4 separate regions of the Homo sapiens genome follow, and regions 2, 3 and 4 are each linked to region 1. Evidence: fine-mapped expression QTL. A gene starts in region 1. Each other region holds a variant in brackets. All regions are shown on one strand. Distances are from middle to middle. Region 1 holds the start of THNSL1 (threonine synthase like 1). Region 2 overlaps ENKUR (enkurin, TRPC channel interacting protein). Region 3 has its middle 35 kb from the start of THNSL1. Region 4 overlaps LINC01516 (long intergenic non-protein coding RNA 1516).

What was found. PIP is the estimated chance that this variant, and not a neighbour inherited with it, causes the effect. A credible set is the group of variants that fine-mapping cannot tell apart.
Region 2: its variant is the best candidate, but not a certain one, in a credible set for the expression of THNSL1 in lung (TOPMed, PIP 0.71).
Region 3: its variant is the best candidate, but not a certain one, in a credible set for the expression of THNSL1 in putamen (GTEx, PIP 0.54).
Region 4: its variant is the best candidate, but not a certain one, in a credible set for the expression of THNSL1 in iPS cells (HipSci, PIP 0.54).

The regions. Positions count from the first base shown.
Region 1 is chr10:25,014,301-25,019,581 of GRCh38, forward strand. It overlaps THNSL1 (threonine synthase like 1), which reads left to right and starts at 2,312. Exons shown (of 3, transcript NM_024838.5): 1 at 2,312-2,392. It overlaps ENKUR (enkurin, TRPC channel interacting protein), which reads right to left and starts at 1,858. Exons shown (of 6, transcript NM_145010.4): 1 at 1,560-1,858. The coding sequence starts at 1,636. RefSeq lists silencers at 1,864-1,913, 2,244-2,443, 2,624-2,703 and enhancers at 1,987-2,749, 2,060-2,354, 2,954-3,033.
Region 2 is chr10:24,992,353-24,997,633 of GRCh38, forward strand. ENKUR (enkurin, TRPC channel interacting protein) reads right to left here. Exons shown (of 6, transcript NM_145010.4): 3 at 3,294-3,517. It also overlaps a transcript of THNSL1 not described here. Among named protein-coding and RNA genes, the nearest start is that of ENKUR, 21 kb to the right of the region's middle. The variant C/A (reference allele first, on the strand shown) is at 1,967.
Region 3 is chr10:25,048,582-25,053,862 of GRCh38, forward strand. It overlaps a transcript of ENKUR not described here. Among named protein-coding and RNA genes, the nearest start is that of THNSL1, 35 kb to the left of the region's middle. The variant C/A (reference allele first, on the strand shown) is at 2,026.
Region 4 is chr10:25,142,644-25,147,924 of GRCh38, forward strand. All of the region lies in intron 6 of LINC01516 (long intergenic non-protein coding RNA 1516), which reads left to right. Among named protein-coding and RNA genes, the nearest start is that of GPR158, 30 kb to the right of the region's middle. The variant T/C (reference allele first, on the strand shown) is at 2,222.

The DNA of each region.
Region 1 (5,281 bases):
AACCTAACAGAAATGATTCTTTTGGCATCACATTTGGGTGCCTCTATTTCCTCTAATCATAAATCTTTCTTCTACTCATTTCTTCATAGTAAAACCAAGAAGTCTGTGCTATCACTCCAACAGCACCAAGAACAGATATACTAGTGCAATATTATACACATAATAGGGGCTCCATTAATGCTTGCCAAATGAATAAAGACTGTTCCTATAAATTTTTTTTGAAAAAAAAAATCGTCTAGATGCAGTAAAGCTTTTTAATTTGCCAAAGAACAGAATACCTACCTAATAAAATAACTCTCAAATTCAATATTCTATAGAAATACAATCTACCAATCTGTTATAGAGGAGTTTTATCTCATGTAATATGCAGGAATTTGAAACCAAAAGTTGGTGCAACAATAGAAAATTTGAAAATAAATTCTGCAACTGTGCCATAACTTACTTTACATTCCTCTTTCCAGTCTCTAGATGTTGATATGCTAATGGAGATGTAATACAGTTACTGCTCTAATTTAAACCAGATACTTAAAATTGAAGAAGCTGCCTACTTGTTGAAGCTATTACCCTAATACTAGTAAAAATAATTGACCATTAGATCTAAAAGGGGCCTTGGATATTATCTGGTACATTTATCTCACAGATCAGTAAACAAATGAAACTTTATTCTAAAGTTCACAAAGACAATTAATTGCTAGGCCCGATTTTTAGTCCAGTCCTTTTCAAATGTGGTTTTGACTTGCATACGGACAAGGATGATGGTAAAAGACAGGAAACATTTCAAGTCCTAGGAGAAATGAGATTTTCTCCACTACTTTCTTTGCTCCCCACAGATTTAAGTAAGTTCTAAGAAGTCCCTACAGATGGGAGTAACTGAAGTGCTTCCTTTGCACGTTTTTGAGATTTGGAGAATTTAAGAGGTTCTAAGACCTATGTAAAATTTCAACTCAATTACATATTTTTTGGTTCATTATCTATCCACCAATTCTTCCTTCCATTTAAACCATTAGATCTGAAAAAGTCCTTAGAAACTGCCTAATAGTGGTAGATATTTCGTTTCACTGATCAAAAACCTGAGGCTCAAAAGCAAATGTAAATTTATATTTCATAAAAATCTTGGGGGAAAAGTCCTATCCTATCCCATTAGAGAGGGAGTAGTGCAGTTAGAAATACAACACCGAACTCCTGAAACCAAACATCAAGTATCCTTAAACAAGATAATAGAATTGTGATTTTTTTCTTTTCAACATGAAACTTCATACTATGCTGTATATCACATATAATTAAATTACACAATAATCACATACCGTATTAATAAGAGGTTAAGTGTAATATAATAAAATGGTCATCTCACAGCGCCAGACTGCCCTCTCTGTAAAACTGTGAGATGCTGAATACCTAGATATTTCGACCTTTTCTCTAACAAGTTATCCTCCAAGGCTACTTCATCGAGGCAAAAATACATTTTATTTATTATTAAAAATTCCAGTATATGTATGCTTAATTAATACTGAGTATTCCCCATTCTTGTTTCAAGTGATAGTCTTTGCTTATCCACATACCTAGGAGGCTGGGGAGGCTCCTTCAAGTCACTGGGTATGAGGTTATAAATGCACTCAGAAGAGCACGTTGGATCCATGGCCACCAAATGACTCCTTAAAAGCTACTCTCCACAACTTTTTTCTCCCTGTCCCAGTATCTCCGTCCCTTTCTTCACTGCTTCCCCTTTCTTTCTTCTTCGCCTTCTGAAGGACCACAGGTTCTCTCCTTCACATCGTCCCCCTTTAACCCCCTCTTAGCAGTCCTCTCTCGGGAAGAAAACACCCTATTTCTCTCCGGATTGCTAAGCGTCGTTGACTGTGCGGTTGCCGTGGAAACCGTTACTAGGCAACGAGGAAGTGGCAGGCAGCACCGCAAACTAGGTCTCCCCTCTTCCCTCTTTCTGCAGCGCCTTCTGCTAGAGAAGCTCATTTGGAAGCCACTGTTTTTACGTGCCTTTGAAAGTTAACGGGGTGAAAATGATGTCCCCTTAAAAACTGTGCTCTTTTCTATTTCTGTGTATCTGGGGAAAAAAGAAAAATCCTAGTAGAGACGGCAAAGCGCAGCTGGTGCGCAGGCGTCACCCAATAAGGTTTTTGTGAGCAGGCCCCAATCGCGGTGTGGGCGGAGCGAGCGGCTGAGACCACGAGGACGCAAGGCCAGCGCCGCCAGGGAGACGAGGGAGGGGAGGAGCCTGAGGAGATCGGAGTGCTCGGATAGGCTACAGTGAGAAAGGAGAGTCACGTGCCCTGCGCGAGGCCGCTCGGGGAAGGGCGTGGAGCGGAGGCACGCTGGCCGCCGCAGGCACAGGCGCAGAGTCCACTGCGCGGGGGCGGGACCGGGGAGCTAGCTGCAGGTACGGTGCTCCGTCTCCTGTGGAGGCTTTAGCGGCTCGTGGACACTGCTCCCCCATTTCCTTTCATTTCCCCCGTCTTCTCAGTGAGATTTCCTTGGTGAGTTATTGGAGGAGAAAGGAAGGAAAACTAGAAGCCAGCCCGCTCCCATCGCATGCCTTTCCCCGTACCGTCCCTTCCCCTTTCCGCTACTCGCTGGTCATCTCAACTCTGCGCGCATTTTTCCTGCTGCTTCTGGTCGAGGCTCCTCGGAACGCCGCGCAGCCCTGCCCGCCACGTGTGTGAGTGCGCGCACGGGGCCCGCGGCCTCCTCCGCCTGCTGCGCTCGCCCTCCCGCCCCTGCTCCCGGGACCGCCCCTTGGGCGGTCCTCCGGGTCGGCTCTGCGCCTGCTCTTCCCCGGGTCGGGACTCTTCCTCTAGGTCGTTCTCCAGGAACCAGTGGACCTGCTCTTTGTAAATGAGCAGCCTAAACTAAGAGGAGAAGCCTTTTAAGTGGGCCTTTACGTTTTTGTCCAGTTTTTGGTGTCCCTTGTTGGAAAATTGTCTTCTGAGAAGCGGTTTTATTCCTTTTTGTTCCACCTGGTCACCCGTAAATCTATGCACATGGGCCTGCCGTAGGAAAGTCATTTAGACGCTTTTACCCGAGTGTTTAAAAGACATTTTGGTAATAGGATTTGGGGAGGAAGATGGATGCCTCTGAACCACCGGTACAGAGGCCACTCTGCCCGAAGGAAATAAAGCTTCCCGGAGAGGAGAGAAAACACACTTGAGTCTGGGTTTCTCACTGCCTGGTTGGCTGGCGGAGTGATTAAAACAACACAATGGCCTGGTGAACCTTTTAGTTCCTGTATAAAAAGGCTTTACTGAATGTGTAGGTCCTTACTTTGGGCTCTTACTGAATTTCACTACATAAGAATACGTTAAGTTTTTCTTTTTTTTTTTTTTGTATACAGTTGATTTTAATTTTTGTCCCAGACGCTTAGGGAAAATTCTCCAGATTTCTTCACATCAGATTGTCTTCCAAAACATTTTAGATAGATGGATCTGTAGATCTATATTTAGATCTAGATCCAAATCTATATCACTTTGCCCCTTTCTTTTCGCCCTTGAGTATTTTATGTTTGGGATTTCTGTTTAGCAAGTATAGAGAAAAAATTTGGCGGGAAACCTCCTGTATGTACGAAGATTCGAACCAAGGACTCATGGAATGATAACGCCATTAGCCAAGTGGATAGTCACTGGCTAAAGCTTATGAATTTTCTAATTAGAAGGAACACCTTGAGACTATTTGTGTTAATCAGTTCCTGAAATAGCAAGTAAGGGCAAAACATGATTTCTGCAGTTAGCACCAACTGGCCTTTGGTAGCCTTGATGTTCTGGGGTTACTGAAATAAAATAATTTCACTGATGTCTGTATATTTATTATGCTTTAAAAAATGCTAAACAATTTGTGCAAGACCTCACTGTGGTATAGTTAGTTTACAGCCATGAGCAGGTTGTTAAATCATTTGGAAAAAAACTTTTCTTTTTTCTTAGACATTTGATCTGCAATTCTCCTTGCCTTTTGAAAGTGTGTTTAAGCAAAATTATTTCTAGTTTTTATAATGCTCTTGAAATGACACTTCAAAAAAATGCCTGTGTCCACCGCATGTCCACAGGGAATTAACTGGTATATACCTACAGGGATGAACAAACTGTCTATAAAGGGGTAGACAGTAAATATTTCAGGCCTTTTTAGGCCAAGTGGTTATGTTGCAACTACTCAGTTTTGCCATTGTAGCTCAAAAGCAGCCAAAGACGGTACTGAACAAATATGTGAGCACATGAATGACTGAAGTTGTGCTTCAAAGAAACTTGATTTATGAAAATGATGGTGGGCCAGATTTAGCCTGTGGATTGTAGTTTGCACAGATCCTAGATCCCCGTATATAATGGTATGCCTGTGATGTACATAAACAAATGAGAGTTGTTTTTTTTTTTTTTTTTTTTGCGAAGGATTATTTTAATCTATTTAAATGAATAAAATGGGTGTAGATGAGTATATAAGACAATTGGAAGGTAAATAAACCCTTTATAAAGACAGGTTCTTTATAATTCTCAAAGTTATAGAATTGTGGATACTAAAGTTTTCAATTAAATATTCGAGATCGTTAAGAATATGTCTAACAGCAGAAGTCTAACGGCAGAAAAAGCTTAGTCAGCTTTGATAGTAATATAAAGACTAAGTGATGAACTTGCAAAATTGTTTTAGTTGTGAGATCCTTGTGATTACAGAACTATACTGGATTGTGTGGTCCTTCCACCCTCACCTCTGTTTCATGGCAAGTGGGAGGCCCTCTGAATGAAAAGTTTGAGAGAATTTTTGGTCAGAAGTCAGAAGCAGTAGAGCTTAACCTCCTTTTGGCTAGTTTGTGTCCTGATACACAGTTAGTTCTCCATATCTGTGAATTTCCCATTCTCAGATTCAACTAATTACAGATTGAAAATATTTTAAAATTTTAGTTGGGCACAGTGGCTCATACCTGCAATCCAAGCACTTTTTGAAGGCCAAGGCAGGAAGACTGCTTGAGCCCAGGAGTTGGAGACCAGCCTGGGCAACATGGCGAAACCCCCTCTCTACTAAAAATACTAAAATTAGCTGGGTGTGGTGGTGCGTGCCTTTAGTCCCAGCTACTTGGGAGGCTGAGGTGGGAGGATTGCTTGAGCCTAGGAAGTCAAGGCTGTAGTGAGCCAAGATTGTGCCACTGCACTCCTGCCTGGGCAACAGAGTGGGAGCCTGTCTGAAAAACAAACAAAAACACGAAAATAATGGAACAGTAAAAATACCACAAACAAAAAAGCAAATTAGTACAACAGCTCTGTACCTAGCATTTGCATTGTATTATGTATTA
Region 2 (5,281 bases), 22 kb before region 1:
GGAGGAACTCTCCGAAGAAGCAGCAGTTGGGAGGTATGGTAGTCATTAAAATTCTGACAAATATTCTGTTCTCCTTCTAGACACTTGGTAGGACAACACTTTCCTGTGTTGTCCTCATAAAGTAAGATGTAGCCATATGCCCTGAATTGCTCAGTGTCAGTGGAGGTGACCTCTGCCACTTCTCGATAGGAGTCTTAAGAATTAGTGGATGACTTGCTGTGTCTTTTCCTGTCTGGTCTAGTGACAAGCAATGTTTAGATTTTTCTGGGTCCTGGAAGAAGGACAAGAAGCAGAGCCTGTAACAACCCTCAAAGGGCACGTGGCAAAAGCAAACAATAACACTTTGTTGCTTTAAGTTACTGAAATTTGGGGATTGTTTGTCATCACAGTGTAACTTAACCCATCCTGACTGAACAAGGGATAGAAATCCTAGATATAAATGTGTTCTGGAAGCTGCAGAGGACAATACAAATAGACTCTGGGAGGCCAGTATTCTGGTCAGCTGGTGCAGTGAGTGAGACAGGCCAATCCACTTCAGGAAACACTGAAGGAAACACCTCATTACAGCTTAGTACAATAATGGAGCTTCATCATGATGATTCTGCAGGATCACAGAAAGATTAAATTATATTTGGCATACTCTGTTTAAGAAAGAGAATGACTGGGCGCAGTGGCTCAAGCCTGTAACCCCAGCACTTTGGGACAGCTAGGCAGGAGAACTGCTTGAGCCCAAAAGTTCAAGACCAGCCTGGGCAACATAGTGAGACTCCATCTCTAAAAAAAATTAAATTAAGTGTTTTTAAAAAGAAAGGGAATGGTGTGATACAGTTCAGAAAAAAAACTCACAAATGAGCAAAAGCTTCAATGATCTGAAATATTCCTATGGGCTGAATCACCGGAGGCTAATGCATACTGTTAATAAAATTGCATATATTATACTATTCACTCTTTGTTCTTTTATTAGGTGTCACATTTTGTGTCAAGTGCTCAATATACTTTATATAATTTAATCCTCACTACAACCCTGTGATAAATCCAATGGATTGTTGGAAATCACAGTTACTAAGTGGCAGAGTTAGACTTTGAAAGAATGTCTTTACTGGTATTGCTAAATACCTCATGTGATCATCTATCCTTGCTTGTTTTCAGAAATTGTTTCTCATGGTATGAATGGCATATAATTCACTTGGAGCTGAAATGGGAGTTCACTCATTTTATAAAAATATGACATTGACTTTAAAAGAATTTATTTACTATCTCACCTACCAATGATAGATCTTTAAAACTTAACTCTGATAAGGGAAAAGTAAATTGAGTAAGTCTTTCATGAGCACTGATTGCTTAGTCAGCAACACCAAAAGGGCATTAGGTGCACAGTGCTTTCATGGTTTGGTAAACTCTGGTATTTTTCTGTTTCCATGATGGATACTCCAAATTTCCTGTTGAAGGTAGAAAATGCATTCAAGTGGACAGCTTAGAGAGCAGCCAGAAGGGAGGGGCAGAGTGTGTGACAGGTGGTGGCATGACCAGTAAAGACTTTTCATATGATCATGGAGAAATAATGGACTGGAAGTGGCTTTAAGAGCCATGAGAGTGAGTTTTCCACTTTTCCCTATCCTGTGGGACAACGACTATAAAACAGTTTCCAGGGGCCACAGAAGGAGGAAGTACCTGGAGAAGCCTGAAGTAACTTTATTGGCTTATCCTGGGAACTCCTAGATTCCTGAGAAGACAGTGTCCTCTGAAAACAGCCTTGAGGGTCCTGTTTTGATTTTCCACTGGCATTGGATTTATCATGGTAGATCACTGGACTCTTCAATTTTAGGTCCCTGTACATCACTATTGCAATTTCTTTTCTTTTTTTCTTTATCTCTCTTCCTTTTTCTTTATCTCTCTCTTCCTTTTTCCTTCCTTCCTTTCCTTTCTCCCTCCCTTCCTTCATTTCTTCTTGATGCAACTTATTATT[C/A]TTTAGAATTCTGCACTCTTTTTTTTTTTTTTTGACACCGAGTCTCGCTCTGTCACCCAGGCTGGAGTGCAGTGACGCGACCTTGGCTCACTGCAACCCCCGCCTCCTGGGATCAAGCGATTCTCGTGCCTTAGCCACCCGAGTAGCTGGGATTACAGGCACACACCACCACGCCTGGCTAATTTTTGTATTTTTAGTAGAGATGGGGTGTCACCATGTTGGCCAAGATGGACTTGAACTCCTGACCTCAAGCAATCCTCCTGGCCTTCTAAAGTGCTGGGATTACAGTTGTGAGCCACTGTGCCCAGCCTGCATTCATATTTTGTGTGTTTCAAGCACTTTTAAGCTTTATAAGTGCGCAAAATAAAGTAGCATTAAATAAGATTTTTTGTAAGCTTTTTTATTTTAAAGATCTGTATTTGGCTGGGTGCAGTGGCTTATGTCTGCAATCCCAGCACTTTGGGAGGCTGAGGTGGGTGGATCACTTGAGGTCAGGAGTCAAGACCAGCCTGGCCAACATGGTGAAACCCCCTGTCTACTAAATATACAAAAAAATAACCAGGCCTGGTGATGCATGCCTGTAATTCCAGCTACTTGGGAGGCTGAGTGAGGAGAATCACTCGAGCCGGAAGTTGGAAGTTGCAGTGAGCTGAGATTGCACCATTGTACTCCAGCCTGGGAAACAGCATGAGAATATGTCTCAAAAAAAATCTATATTTAAACTATAATGTTCACCAATGAAATTACACACCTTTTCAGATACAAATGAAGGACCCAAAAGGACTAGATTATTGTACAGTACTTTCAAGTCTTTACCCAAAACCAAAACCAAATAAATATATTCATGTTAAAATAGGAATGTGAATTATTTATACTACACTGATGAGATGGATGGCTCTAAAGCTGCATTCTGCTTCATTTTTCTTATTCAGCTGCCAAGTTACTGCAATTAATGACTAAATCTTAAGACCATCTGACAGCTTATTCCTTCTAGATTTACAGTAATGACTGCTTTTAGTGACATTTCCAACTAACCAAAAATATCTTTCAGAGAATGTTTATTAAAATTGTTAAATATGTTAATAATCAAAATTAAGGAAAACAATAACTTTTATCTACTGAACTATATGGAATTGTTTACTATGGGTTCTTTGTAACTTCATCCCATTACATTTGGACCAAACACAGATTGCAGAAGAATGAGAATCAGCAAAGTAGACAATGTGTCCAATGAGAGCACTAATAATGATAACATAGATGATCATCATGAACACCATATTTAAATTATTTGAATTTCAGCCCTCTTATTAATATACCACAAGGCTACCTTTTTATTGATGTACTTTGGAACTAGTCCTGAAGGCTCAAGATCATGCTTGTCTCCAGTTCTTTTATCAACATAAATTGGTTTAGGCTTTTTAGCCACTCCCATGATGATATCAGCTGCATTTGTATTTATAAAATTTTTTCCACTCTGTATTCCCATGACAGGATGATCAGTCTTCAATGGCACAGCAGGCTTTTTGGGCACGTTCCGATCAAAGTTTTTTTCTGTTAAATATAACATTTCTTTGTTAATATTAAACTACAAACACTGCTACTCAGTGCTATTTATAATATCCAGATATTTCACCACTTGTATATTGAAGTTGCAGTCATAATATATTTAAATATTTAAGATAGAAGTTTATGCTTACCCCCAAACTCATTGACTTGTAGACATTAAATATGCACAGCTTTTTACCTGTCAATCAGGCCTCAATAAAATAATTTTTTAAAAAGAAAAAAAGTCAGTAATTAAAATGGAAATAAATTAAGGGCAACATAATCAATTAATATGTTGAGGAGGCCGGGCACGGTGGCCCACGGTGACGTGGGCAGATCGCTTGAGCTCAGGAGTCTGAGACCAGTCTCGGCAACACAGTGAAACCCCATCTCTGCAAAAAATGCAAAGTTAGCCAAGCATGATAGTGTGCACCCTTAGTCCCAGCTACTCAGGAGGCTGAGGTGGGAGGATTGCTTCAGCCTGGGAGGCGGAGGTTGCAGTGAACCGAGATCATGCCATTGTACTCCAGCCTGGGTGACGGAGTGAGACTCTGTCTCAAAAAAGATCATATATGTGTGTGTGTGTGTGTGTGTATATATATATATATGAACAGTATATAAATACAAGGAAGAAGTATTTCTTGCTTATTGGCCGTTTTTACACAGCCTCTTCAGTTTGATCATTCCCATTGATCTATTTTAATATAGCCAAATGGTTTGCCACAATGCAAAAATGTGAAATAATTTATTTTTAAGAACTGAAAGCAACAACTGTCTTGAAAATGCCTTTTCCAATTTTAACCCCATCACAATTACTAAGGACTGACTTTATTCATTTCTGCATCATTTGACCTTTTTTATTAGTTTATATAACTTTTATTATCAGCAAAGCCAATACTTACAGTTAAAAGTCTATGAACTGGATTAGCCTCTTGTTAGGGGCTGAGTTATGTCCTCCTAGAATTCATATGTTGAAGCCCTAACCCCCAGTATCTCAGAATATAACTGTATTTGTAGAAAGGTCTTTAAAGAGGTAATTAAGTCAAGATGAGGTCATTAGAGAAGGCGCTGATCCAATATGACTGGTGTCCTTAGAAGAGGAAATTTGAACACAGACATACATATAAGGAAGAACACGTAAAGATACAGAGAAAAGATAACCATCTACAAGCCAATGAGAGATGCTTTAGAAGAAACCAACCCTGCTGCGTGTGGTGTTGCATGCCTGCAGTCCCAGCTACTTGGGAGGCTGAGGCAGGAGGATTGCTTGAAGCCAGGAGTGTGAGGCTGCAGTGTGCTTTCATCATGCCTGTGAATAGCCACCACACACTCCAGCCTGTGCAACATAGACCCTATCTCCAAAAATAAAAACAAACAAAAATACTCCTAAAAAAGAAAAGCAAAAATCAACTAATCCTCTGACATCTTGATGTTGGACTCCTAGTTCTCCAGAACTGTCCTCCAGAACTCTCATTGGACCGAGTTTTTAAAGCTTTTGCAAAACCCTGCATTCCTTTTTTTTTTTTTTTTCCTCTTTTTTTGAGACAGGGTCTCCCTCTGCCACCCAGGCTGGAGTGCAGTGATGCAATCATAGCTCACTGCAGCCTCAACTTCCTGGGCTCAGGTGATCCTCCCACCTGAGCCTCCCATATAGCTGGGACCACAGATGTGCATCAGCACACCTAGCTAATTAAAAAAAATTTTTTATAGAGATAGGGTCTCACTTTGTTGCTCAGGCTGGTCTCGTACTCCTGGGCTAAAGCAGTCCTC
Region 3 (5,281 bases), 34 kb after region 1:
GAAGCTGCTGATGAGAAACAAAGTCCCACACAGGCAATGGCCCAAATCAACAGCCAAAGCAAATGAGATGCAGTCCATGAGCCAAGGTCTCAGATAGCTGTTCTCAGCCCTGCTTTTATGACTTTGCAAAGGGTGTGCTCAGGCTGGGGTTTCAGGGCGTGCTGGGAGTCCAGAGAGGCAAGGGATTCTTCCAAAGTCATTCTCAGATGTTGGAATCTCTTGCAGTTGAGGTCTTTTTATATCTTTACCCCAGCGATTTGGGGTAAGAATAAAACTTCATTTTTTTTTTCTTGAAGATAGATACAGATCAACTTGGAAATGTCCAATGTTATGGGGAAAAGGGAGGAAATGGACATGGAAATCAGAAAGAAAGAGGAAGGAGAAGGCATTCAGTGCCTTCTAGGAGGCTGTATATAAAGAATAGCGATTAAGAAGGCTGGCTTTGAAGTCGTGATGCCTTTATTTTAACCACATCACTACTATTTGCTAGCTGAGTGACCAGGGCAGCATGTTATTGAACCTCTTCACTTTTCATCTGTAAACTGAAGATGATAACATATCCTTCCTTCTAAAGTTGTTGGGAGGGTTAACTGTAAATTACTTAGAGTACTTTGCACAAAGTAGGTGCTCAATATATTTTAGGTGCTACTTCGTTCTCTAGGGGTACATTCTCTCAGATAAGTATTGCTCTCCTACAACGTGCTAGGCACTTTGCTAGGTACTGGGGAAACTGTGATAAACAAAATGGCCAATTTCAGGAGGTAATAAGTGAACAGAATTTGGAAATCTCAATAAGGGTATGTAAATAAAAACTTATGGAAGGTAAAAAAAAGTCAACTTGAGTTACAGATGTCAGGAGATCATCATTCTACTAGTTAAGTTGGGGAAATAGAAAAAGTAATGTTTGTATCAAAACAAGACTTTGGCCAGGCATGGTGGCTCATGCCTATAATCCCAGCACTTTGGGAGGCTGAAGCAGGCAGATCACCTGAGGTCAGGGGTTCGAGACCAGCCTGGCCAACATGGTGAACCCTCATCTCTACTAAAAATACAAAAATTAGCCAGATGTGGTGGCACATGCCTGTAATCTCAGCTACTTGGGAGGCCAAGGCAGGAGAATCACTTGAACCTGGGAAGCGGATGTTGCAGTGAGTCGAGATCATGCCACTGCACTCCAGCCTGACAGAGTGAGACTCCGTCTCAAAAAAAAAAAAAAAAAAGACTTCAAGAATTAAAATTTAAAAAAAAAAAGAGTTAAGAGTTTCTGGGAGACAGTAGTGTATTAGACCATTTTTGCATTGTTATATAGGAATACCTGAGGCTGGGTAATTTATAAGGAAAAGAGGTTTAATTGGCTCATGGTTCTGCAGGCTGTACAAGCAGCATGGTGTCAGCATCTGCATGGGGTGAGGGCCTCAGGAAGCTTCCAATCAAGGTGGAAGGTGAAGGGGGAGGAGGCATGTCACATGATGAGAGCAGGAGCAAGAGGGCAGGGGGATGTCCCAGGCTTTTAGACAACCAGATCTGGTGTGAACTAACTGAGCAAGAACTCACTCATCACCAAGGGGATGGTGCCAAACCACTCAGAAGGGATCTGCCCTTATGATCCAGTCACCTCCCACCACTGGGGATCATATTTCAAATTTCAACATGAAATTTGGAGGGGACAAGCATCCAAACCATATCAAGTAGTAAGAGAAACCATTTTGTATTAGTCTGTTCTCACGCTGCTAATAAAGACATACGTAAGACTGGGTAATTTGTAAAGGAAAGAAATTTAATTGACTCACAGTTCCACATGGCTAGGGAGGCCTCACAATCGTGCAGAAGCCAAAGGAGGAGCAAAGTCACGTCTTGCATGGTGGCAGGCAAGAGAGCATGTGCAGGGGAACTGCCCTTTATAAAACCGTTAGATTTCGTGAGACGTATTCACTACCACGAGAACAGCATGAGAAAGACCTGGCTCCATGATTCAATTACCTCCCACTGGTCCCTTCTACGACTCGTGGGAACTATGGGAGCTAC[C/A]ATTTGAGATTTGGGTGGGGATTCAGGCAAACCATATCATGTTTCATCCTGAGAAACATGTTATTGTAATGACAAGGAGCTGGGGTGATAAGAATGTGCAGAGGAGACAGTGAAACCCAGGATTAGATGCTGCGGTTTGTGGAGAATTTCTTAAAAGGAGGTAATGCTGTCAAAAAGAACAAGGGAATGTCTATGAGACCTACTAATAAGTGGAGTTAAGTCAGATTATCAAACAATATATATGTACCCTACTTAAGTTTCAAAAAAGGTGAAGGGCATTTTATGGTAAAGGAGGACTGTCTTATTAAAATTAACATGGGTCACCTTTGTGCTGATGAAATGTGGTATAAAAAATTTGTTTCTAATTCATTCCAAACTTCATACTTACTTTTTACTGATGATTTATTTTCCCGTGCATGCCTTATAGGTACAGACTTTGAAAATTATGTATTTTATGTATCCTTGGAACTTACAAGTTTCTGCACTTAAAACAGTACACAAAAGCTACATAAACGACCGTATAAAACTGAATGCAGTTGCAAGTCTTGTCCAAAGGATGAATGATTTAAGGGTTTTATAGTTCTTCCCACTCCTGAAATATAGCTCCTCTTCTTGCTTCCAGTTTATTAATAGAGAATAAGCATTTCTACAGTTTGAGATAACATTTGAAATGCAAACCCTCCTTGGAGAAGCAGTACATATGTTCCTATTCCTGCAAAGCTGTGTTGGGTCCCTATTAGGCTGTTCTTGCATTGTTATAAAGAAATACCTGAGACTGGGTAATTTATAAGAAGAGAGGTTTAATTGGCTCATGGTTCTGCAGGCTGTACAGGAAGCATGATGCTGGCATCTGCTCAGCTTGTGGGAAGGCCTCTGGAAGCTTATAATCATAGCAGAGGGTGAAGGCGGAGCAGGCATGTCACTGTGAAGGCAGGAGCAAGGGACAGGAGAGGTGCCACGCACTTTTAAACTACCAGATCTTACAAGACCTCCCTATCACAAGGACAGCACCAAGCAGATGGTGCTAAACCATTTATGAGCAATCCACCCCCATGACCCAATTACCTCTCACAAGGCTCCGCCTCCGGTACTGGGGATTACAATTCAAGAGGAGATTTGGGCAGGGACAAATATCCAAACTATATCAGGTCCTTTCTCTGAAGGTTCGAGAGAGAAGTCACCAAGCCATGGAAGCAATCAAGGCAGAACGAGGAGTACAGAGGCTAATGACCACAAATCCATTGTCCCTACTAGGTCGTCATTCTGCTTAGAGCCTGTCCCCTGTTCCTCTGAAATGATTCTGCAATTCACAGCTAGGATACCTAGTGGCTTGTAGCCATATCTGCATCAGCAACATATACATTTATAAAATAATGTTATTTTCAATTGTTTTAATAGAAAAAAATTCACATTAGGCAGCAAAAATAACAATTTAAGCACCAAAGAATAGAGCAGAAAGTCCATTGTCATTTATCATTAACTAGAAAGTTATGTTCCTTAGAATTCTTGGGTAGAATGTACCAACAGGAGGGACAGGCTGGGTCTCTCACTGTATAATATCTGTGGGAGAGTCTAATAAGTGAGAAATGATTACCTTAGTTGAGCAATTTGATAAGACAAAGCAAACAAAAATAAACCTAAATCTAGCCCTGGCTGTCTGGCAAGTAAAGAGGTCAGTATGCTAAAGGCTGCATTTTATGGATCATGATAAGAGGTGGCCTTATTCGGGCCTTTCAAATTTTTCCTTCATTAACATATTCTTGTTTAAGTATTAAATATTATTATATATTATGGTAAGATATATAATGTTGACTGACATTTCTAAATCCTCAGGAATAGTCACCTAGTAAGTACATTTACACTAATCATGGATTTAAGAAAGTACTAGAGGCGGGGCTCAGTGGCTCATGCCTGTAATCGCAGGCCAAGGTGGGAGAATCGCTTGAAGCCAGCAGTTTGAGACCAGCCTGGGAAACACAGTGAGACATCATCTCTACAGATTTTTTTAAAAAAAATTTAGCTGGGTGTGGTTCTGAGAACCTGTAGTCTCAGCTACTCAGGAGGCTGAGGCAGGAGGATTGCTTTGAGCTCAGGAGTTCGAGGCTGCAGTGAGCTATGATCACACCACTGCACTCCAGCCTGAGTTACAGAGTGAGACTCTCTCTTTTTTTTCTTTTTTCTTTTTTTTGAGACGGAATTTCATTCTTGTTACCCAAGCTGGAATGCAATCTCAGTTCACTGCAAGCTCCGCCTCCTGGGTTCAACTGATTTTCCTGCCTCAGCCTCCCGAGTAGCTAGGATTACAGGCATGCGCCACCATGCCTGGCTAATTTTGTATTTTTACTAGAGACAGGGTTTCACCATGTTGGTTGGGCTGGTCTTGAACTCCTGACCTCAGGTGATCCATCCACCTCGGCCTCCCAAAGTGCTGGGATTACAGGCATGAGCCACCACACCCATCTTGTCTCTTTAAAAAAAAAAAAAAAAGGACTGGAGGAAATAAAATGGGAGGAAACTAATTTTCAGTTAGGCACCTTTTTTCATTTTTTAAATTTTATTGTAAACCGACATTATAATTGTATATATTTATGCAGCACAAAGTGACATTACAATATGTGTATACAAGGTGGAATGGTAAAATCAAGCGAATTAACATATCCATCACTCCAAATACTTATCCCTTTTTGTGGTGAGAACATTTGAAATTTACTCTCTTAGCAAATGAAGTATATAATACATTGTTATTAACTATAGTCTCCAAGCTATGCAATCGATCTCAAAAAACGTATTCCTCCTGTCTAACTGAAACTGCACCCTTTGACTAATATCTCCCCATTTCCCCCACTTCCCAGCCTCCGGTAATCATTATTCTACTCTGCTCCTAGGAGTTCACTGTTTTAGATTCTGCATATAAGTCAGGCCCTGCCCTATTTGTCTTTCTGTGGGCACTAATTTTCTATTATAAATAGTTAGATGCAGCAGCTAGCTCAATGAAAGTAGGTGACTTCAGGTTCATAGGACAATAATAGTAATATTAACAATATTACCTTCGGGTTTTTTACTGCACCATAATTTATTCAATTAATTTTCTGTTCTTGGTCACTCAGGTAGTTTGAAATATTTCGAATGCTGTAAATAACCCTGCAATGAGCATTCTTATACATACATCTTTTTACCCAGCACTGATTTTTTTTAAATTTATGATAAAATATTTAAGACACATGAAAAGGCATAAAAATATTTTTTAAAAAATACT
Region 4 (5,281 bases), 130 kb after region 1:
CCCTGGCCTCTGATGCATCACTTCAACGACTGCTGACACCTACACAGCTCTCCTAAAATCCCTCCATTAGTCATTCCTTTGGTCAGGGCTCTTAAGGTCCTTTTAAAATTCACGCATGCTCTGTGGGAAGTGGCATATCTAGCCAATTCTCAGCTATTATGTTTGTCTAATCAGCTAGGTTCAGTGAACAGGGCTGTGAAGCATTTTTTAATAAAGGAGTTGAGAAAATATGAGGCAATACCTTAAAAGATGTTTCAGCAAGGACTAAGCAGCCCTGAAGGGGTTCCAAAAGGAAGTAGGAGATGCTGACAGAAAAGGAGAGTGACTTCCAGAACCAACTGGGTGGGAAGAATAGGAACGCTCATTCTGGGACTGTCCTTCACGTCTTCAGATTGACTTATTTTGGCAAGGGGGAGTTCTAGGCAACTATGTAACATATTGCCCAAAGCAGAACACTTTTGAGAATGAAAAATGGGGTGTTCCATGAAAAGACCATATATACAAAGCAACTCCTAAATGCCAAAGGAGCTGAGAAACCAAAGAAGGAGGCACATCAGTCCAGTGTGTTCTTAAAGGTGTTTTATTGGGGAACTGACAGACACAAGTGTGGTCTTGGGTGACCACAGGACAGGTGGCCCTCTGCACTGTTATTCCCCAGATCCAGGGCTTATATCTCTAGGGAAAGGGTATCTGTGCTCCAGCAAGACAAGGCAAAGCAACTCTTCAGTACAGGCAAGAATGCTATACTGTGTGCCATAACTTATAATTTGTGTGATAACATTAAGGTAGATTTGTTCTTACAATAGGGATAGTAAATAAAGGATGAATCAGGAGGCGTTCATGCAGCCGGGAAATAATCAGAAGTCAACATGGGAGATTAGCCTCTAAGATGGAGTCAACGGCTGGGTGCGGTGGCTCATGCCTGTAATCCCAGCACTTTGGGAGGCCGAGGTGGGTGGATCACCTGAGGTTGGGAGTTTGAGACCAGCCTGACCAACATGGTGAAACCCTGTTTCTACTAAAAATACAAAAATTAGCTGGGCATGGTGGTGTGCACCTGTAATCCCAGCTACTTGGGAGGCTAAGGCAGGAGAATAGCTTGAAACCAGGAGGAGGAGGTTGCAATGAGCTGAGATAGTGCCACCGAACTCAACGTGGCAACAGAGTAAAACTCTGCCTCAAAAAAAAAAAAAAGATGGAATCACTTTTATCTCCACATGGAGGAACTCTTAAAAATTATACAGGATCAACAGGTGTAAATAAGGGATTTACACCTGTCTTGGGATCCCCCTACTTACAGGAAGTACTCATGAGGAATCTCTCTGAATTTTTTTTTTTTTGAGACAAAATCTTGTTTTGTCACCCAGGCTGGAGTGTAGTGGTGTGATCCTGGCTCACTGCAACCTCCGCCTCCTGGGTTAAAGAGATTCTCCTGCCTCAGCCTCCCGAGTAGCTGGGATTACAGGCATGTGCCACCATGCCCAGCTAATTTTTGTATTTTTAGTAGAGACGGGGTTTCACCATGTTGGCCAGGCTGGTCTCGAACTCCTGACCTTAGGTGATCCACCCTCCTTGCTCTCCCAACGTGCTGGGATTACAGGCGTGAGCCACTGCACCGGCCTCTCTCTGGAAGGTTTAATAAAGAATTGAGCATTTTCCCCTATAGAGGCAAATAGAAAGTCTGCTTCCATCTATCAGGTCCACATGCAGTCATAAGACAATTGTTCATATGAAATTTTTAAATGTCTTGATTCCTATTTAGGTATTATTGGTTCAAAGTAAAAGGTGAAATATAAAAACAGACTCCAAATGGAGAGATAGGTTAGGGCCAGGTTGTGAAGGGCTTTGAATGCCATATTGAGGGGTCTCCACTTAATCCTGTCTGTAAAAAGAAACTGCCAGAGGGGGATGGATGCAAAATGACCTGTGGCTTATGCATACCACCCTGGAGATGGTGTTGAGAATGGGTGAATGTAACAAACACATTGGTAGTGGTGACGCTTTTGGTGGAAAGTCCATCGTGACCGTGGTCCAGGTGACAGTGCTGGGAAGTTGAGTGAGAGCAGCAGCAGAGGTCACGGGGAGAAGTCACCGTATTTAAAACACAGTGTGGAGCTAGAATCAATAACACTCAGTGAATTACTGTATATGGAGAATGAAGAAGAAGAAGGAATCAAAGATGGACTCAGGGTTCTCAAAATATTGACTAGGTGAAGGGCAA[T/C]GCTATTATTCCCGATCAGGGACACGGGTAGACGAATGAGATTAAGGACATGGTAACTTCTATGTTTTAAATAAAGTTTAAAGACTGTAGCTGGGTGTGGCGGCTCATGCCTGTAATCTCAGCACTTTGGGAGATTGAGACAGAAAGCTTGCTTGAATTCAGGAGTTCAAGACCAGCCTGGACAATATAGGGAGACCTCGTCTCTATTTTAACAATGACAGAAAACAAAAACAAAAACGAAAAGAAAGAAAGAAAGAAAAAGAAATGAAAAGAAAAAATAAAGAATGTATATGATACGCCAGGGTTTTGCTGGCATTTTATTTGTTACCTCAATCTTAACAGTTTTCTGAAGTAGGCCTTGTCATTACCTCCATTTAAAAAAAATCTTAAAACATTTTAAATTGACAAATAATAATTGTACATATTGATGGGGTACATAGTAATTCTTTGTGTTGGGAGCATTCAACAGCCTCCTTCTAGCTATTTGAAACTGCATAATATTTTACTGTTAACCATAGTCATCCTACAATGGAATAGAACACTAGAACTTATTCCTCCTTTCTAGTGGTAATCTTGTATCCTTTGATAAATCTCTCCCTATCCCTTTCTTTCCCCTACCCTTCCACGCCTCTGGTATTCTTTTCTTACTTCTATGAGATCAACTTTTTTTAGCTTCCACTATGAGTGAGTACATGCAGTATTTAACTTTCTGCTCCTGCCTTATTTCACTTAACATAATGTCCTCCAGTTTTATCCAAACTGTAGCAACTGACAGGACCTCATTCTTTTTTATGGCCGAGTAGTATTCCATTGTGTATACACCACATTTCCTTTATTGTATCATTTGTTGTTGGACACCTGAGTTGATTCTATATCTTGGCTGTTGTGACTACTACTGCAATAAACATGGGGGTGTAGATGTCTTGTTGACATAAGGAAAGCATAGAGAGGTTGTGTGCTTCACTCTGGCCACCCAGCTAATAGATGGTAAAGATGGAACATGAAGCCAGCAAGGGCTCCCACTTTTTATCATTGTGCCTTTCACTCAGAGATGAATTTTAAAAGTGTGAGGTGGCGGCAACTCTGGAGCTATCTGATTATTGGTATACATTTGACAGAGGCAAAGCTTGTTCCTTTTCTGATTTTTAAAAATAATTTTCTCTATTTTATTTATTTTATTCTTTTTTGTTTTTTGAGACGGAGTCTTGCTCTGTCACCCAGGCTGGAGTGCAGGCATGATCTCAGCTCCCTGCAACCTCTGCCTCCCAGGTTCAAGCAATTCTCCTGCCTCAGCTTCCCAGGTAGCTGGGATTACAGGCGCCCACCACGCCCAGCTAATTTTTGTATTTTTAGTAGAGACAGGGTTTCACCATGTTGGCCAGGCTGGTCTTGAACTCCTGACCTCAAGCAATCCACCCACCTTGGCCTCCCAAAGTGTTGGGATTACAGACGTGAGCCACCGCGCCTGGTCTGATTTGTTTTATTTTCCTTCTATGTAGGTGCGAGTATCTCTTAAGGCTTGATACAGAGCCCCACGCTCTTCTCTTCCTAGGTTGTATCTACATTCACGGCTGCAACCATCACTCCATCCACGGGATGACTCCAGAGCATTTATCTCTGTCCTTGACAATTTCTCTAAATGCGTGTGACACATCTTCAGCTGCCTGCGAAACAGTCCCGGTTGCAAGGCCACTGCCATTAAAATACTCAAGCCCTTATGAAGGATCTGTAGTAGCCAGCTGTGTTAATCTAGAAAAGACACCTCTTCAGAGCTTTGCTTTTCTATCTGTCAGAAAAGGTGGTTTAAAGTAGATCTACAGTCTAAGACTTTAGTCTCCAGTCTAAGGCCTGGAAGGACTAACTGTTGGCGGAACCTCCTTCCTTTGCCTAAAGTTCCTATAGCTGTAACTTGTGCTGCCCAATACAATTTAATTTAAATTTAATTAAAAGTATATATGATTAAAAATTCCCTCCCTCAGTCTCACTAGCCACTTTGAAATGCTCAATGGCCGCATGTGACCGGTGGCTACCACAACGGACAATGCTGATGGAGAACATATTCATTATTGCAGAATGTTTTATTGGATATTTTTGTAATTTAAGCAACTATCAGGTCTGTATTGGTCAGGGTTCTCTACAGTGACAGGACTAATAGGATAGTTGTATATATGAAGGGGAGTTTGTTAAGGAGAATTGACCCACATGATCACAAGGTGAAGTCCCACAATAGGCTGTCTGTAAGCTGAGAAGCAAGGAAACCAGTCCGAGTCCCAAAACCTCAAAAGTAGGGATGCCAACAGTGCAGCCTTCAGTCTGTGGCAGATGGCCTCAGAACCCCTGGCAAACCACTGGTATAAGTTCAAGAGTCCAAAAGCTGAAGAATTTGGAGTCCAATGTTTGAGGACAGGAAGCATCCAGCATGGGAGAAAGATAGAGGCCAGAAGACCCAGCAAGTCTCATCCTTCCAGGTTCCTCTGCCTGCTTTTCTCCTAGCCACGCTGGCAGCTGATTAGATGGTGCCCACCCAGATTGAGGGTGGGTCTGCCTCTCCCAGTCCATTGACTCAAATGTTAATCTCCTTTGGCAACATCCTCACAGACACACCCAGGAACATTACTTTGCATCCTTCAATCCAATCAAGTTGACACTCAATATTAACCATCAGAAGGTCTAAAGCCAAAATGTCTACAGCTATCGTATCCAAAGTCTCCCCATTCACCCAATTTTTTTTTTTTTTTTTTTTTGAGATGAAGTCTTGCTCTGCCACCCAGCCTGCAGTGAAGTGGTGCAATGTCTCGGCTCACTGATCTTCTTCCTCCCAGGTTCAAGCGATTCTCCTGCCTTAGCCTCCCGAGTAGGTGGGTTTATAGGCACCCACCACCACGCCTGGCTAATTTTCATATTTTTAGTAGAGATGGGGTTTCATCATGTTGGCCAGGCTGGTCTCGAACTCCTGACCTCCAGTGATCCGCCTGCCTCAGCCTCCCAAAGTGCTGGGATTACAGGCGTGAGCCACCGTGCCCGGTCCCCATTCACTCAAATTTTGTTCTCCCTGTATCT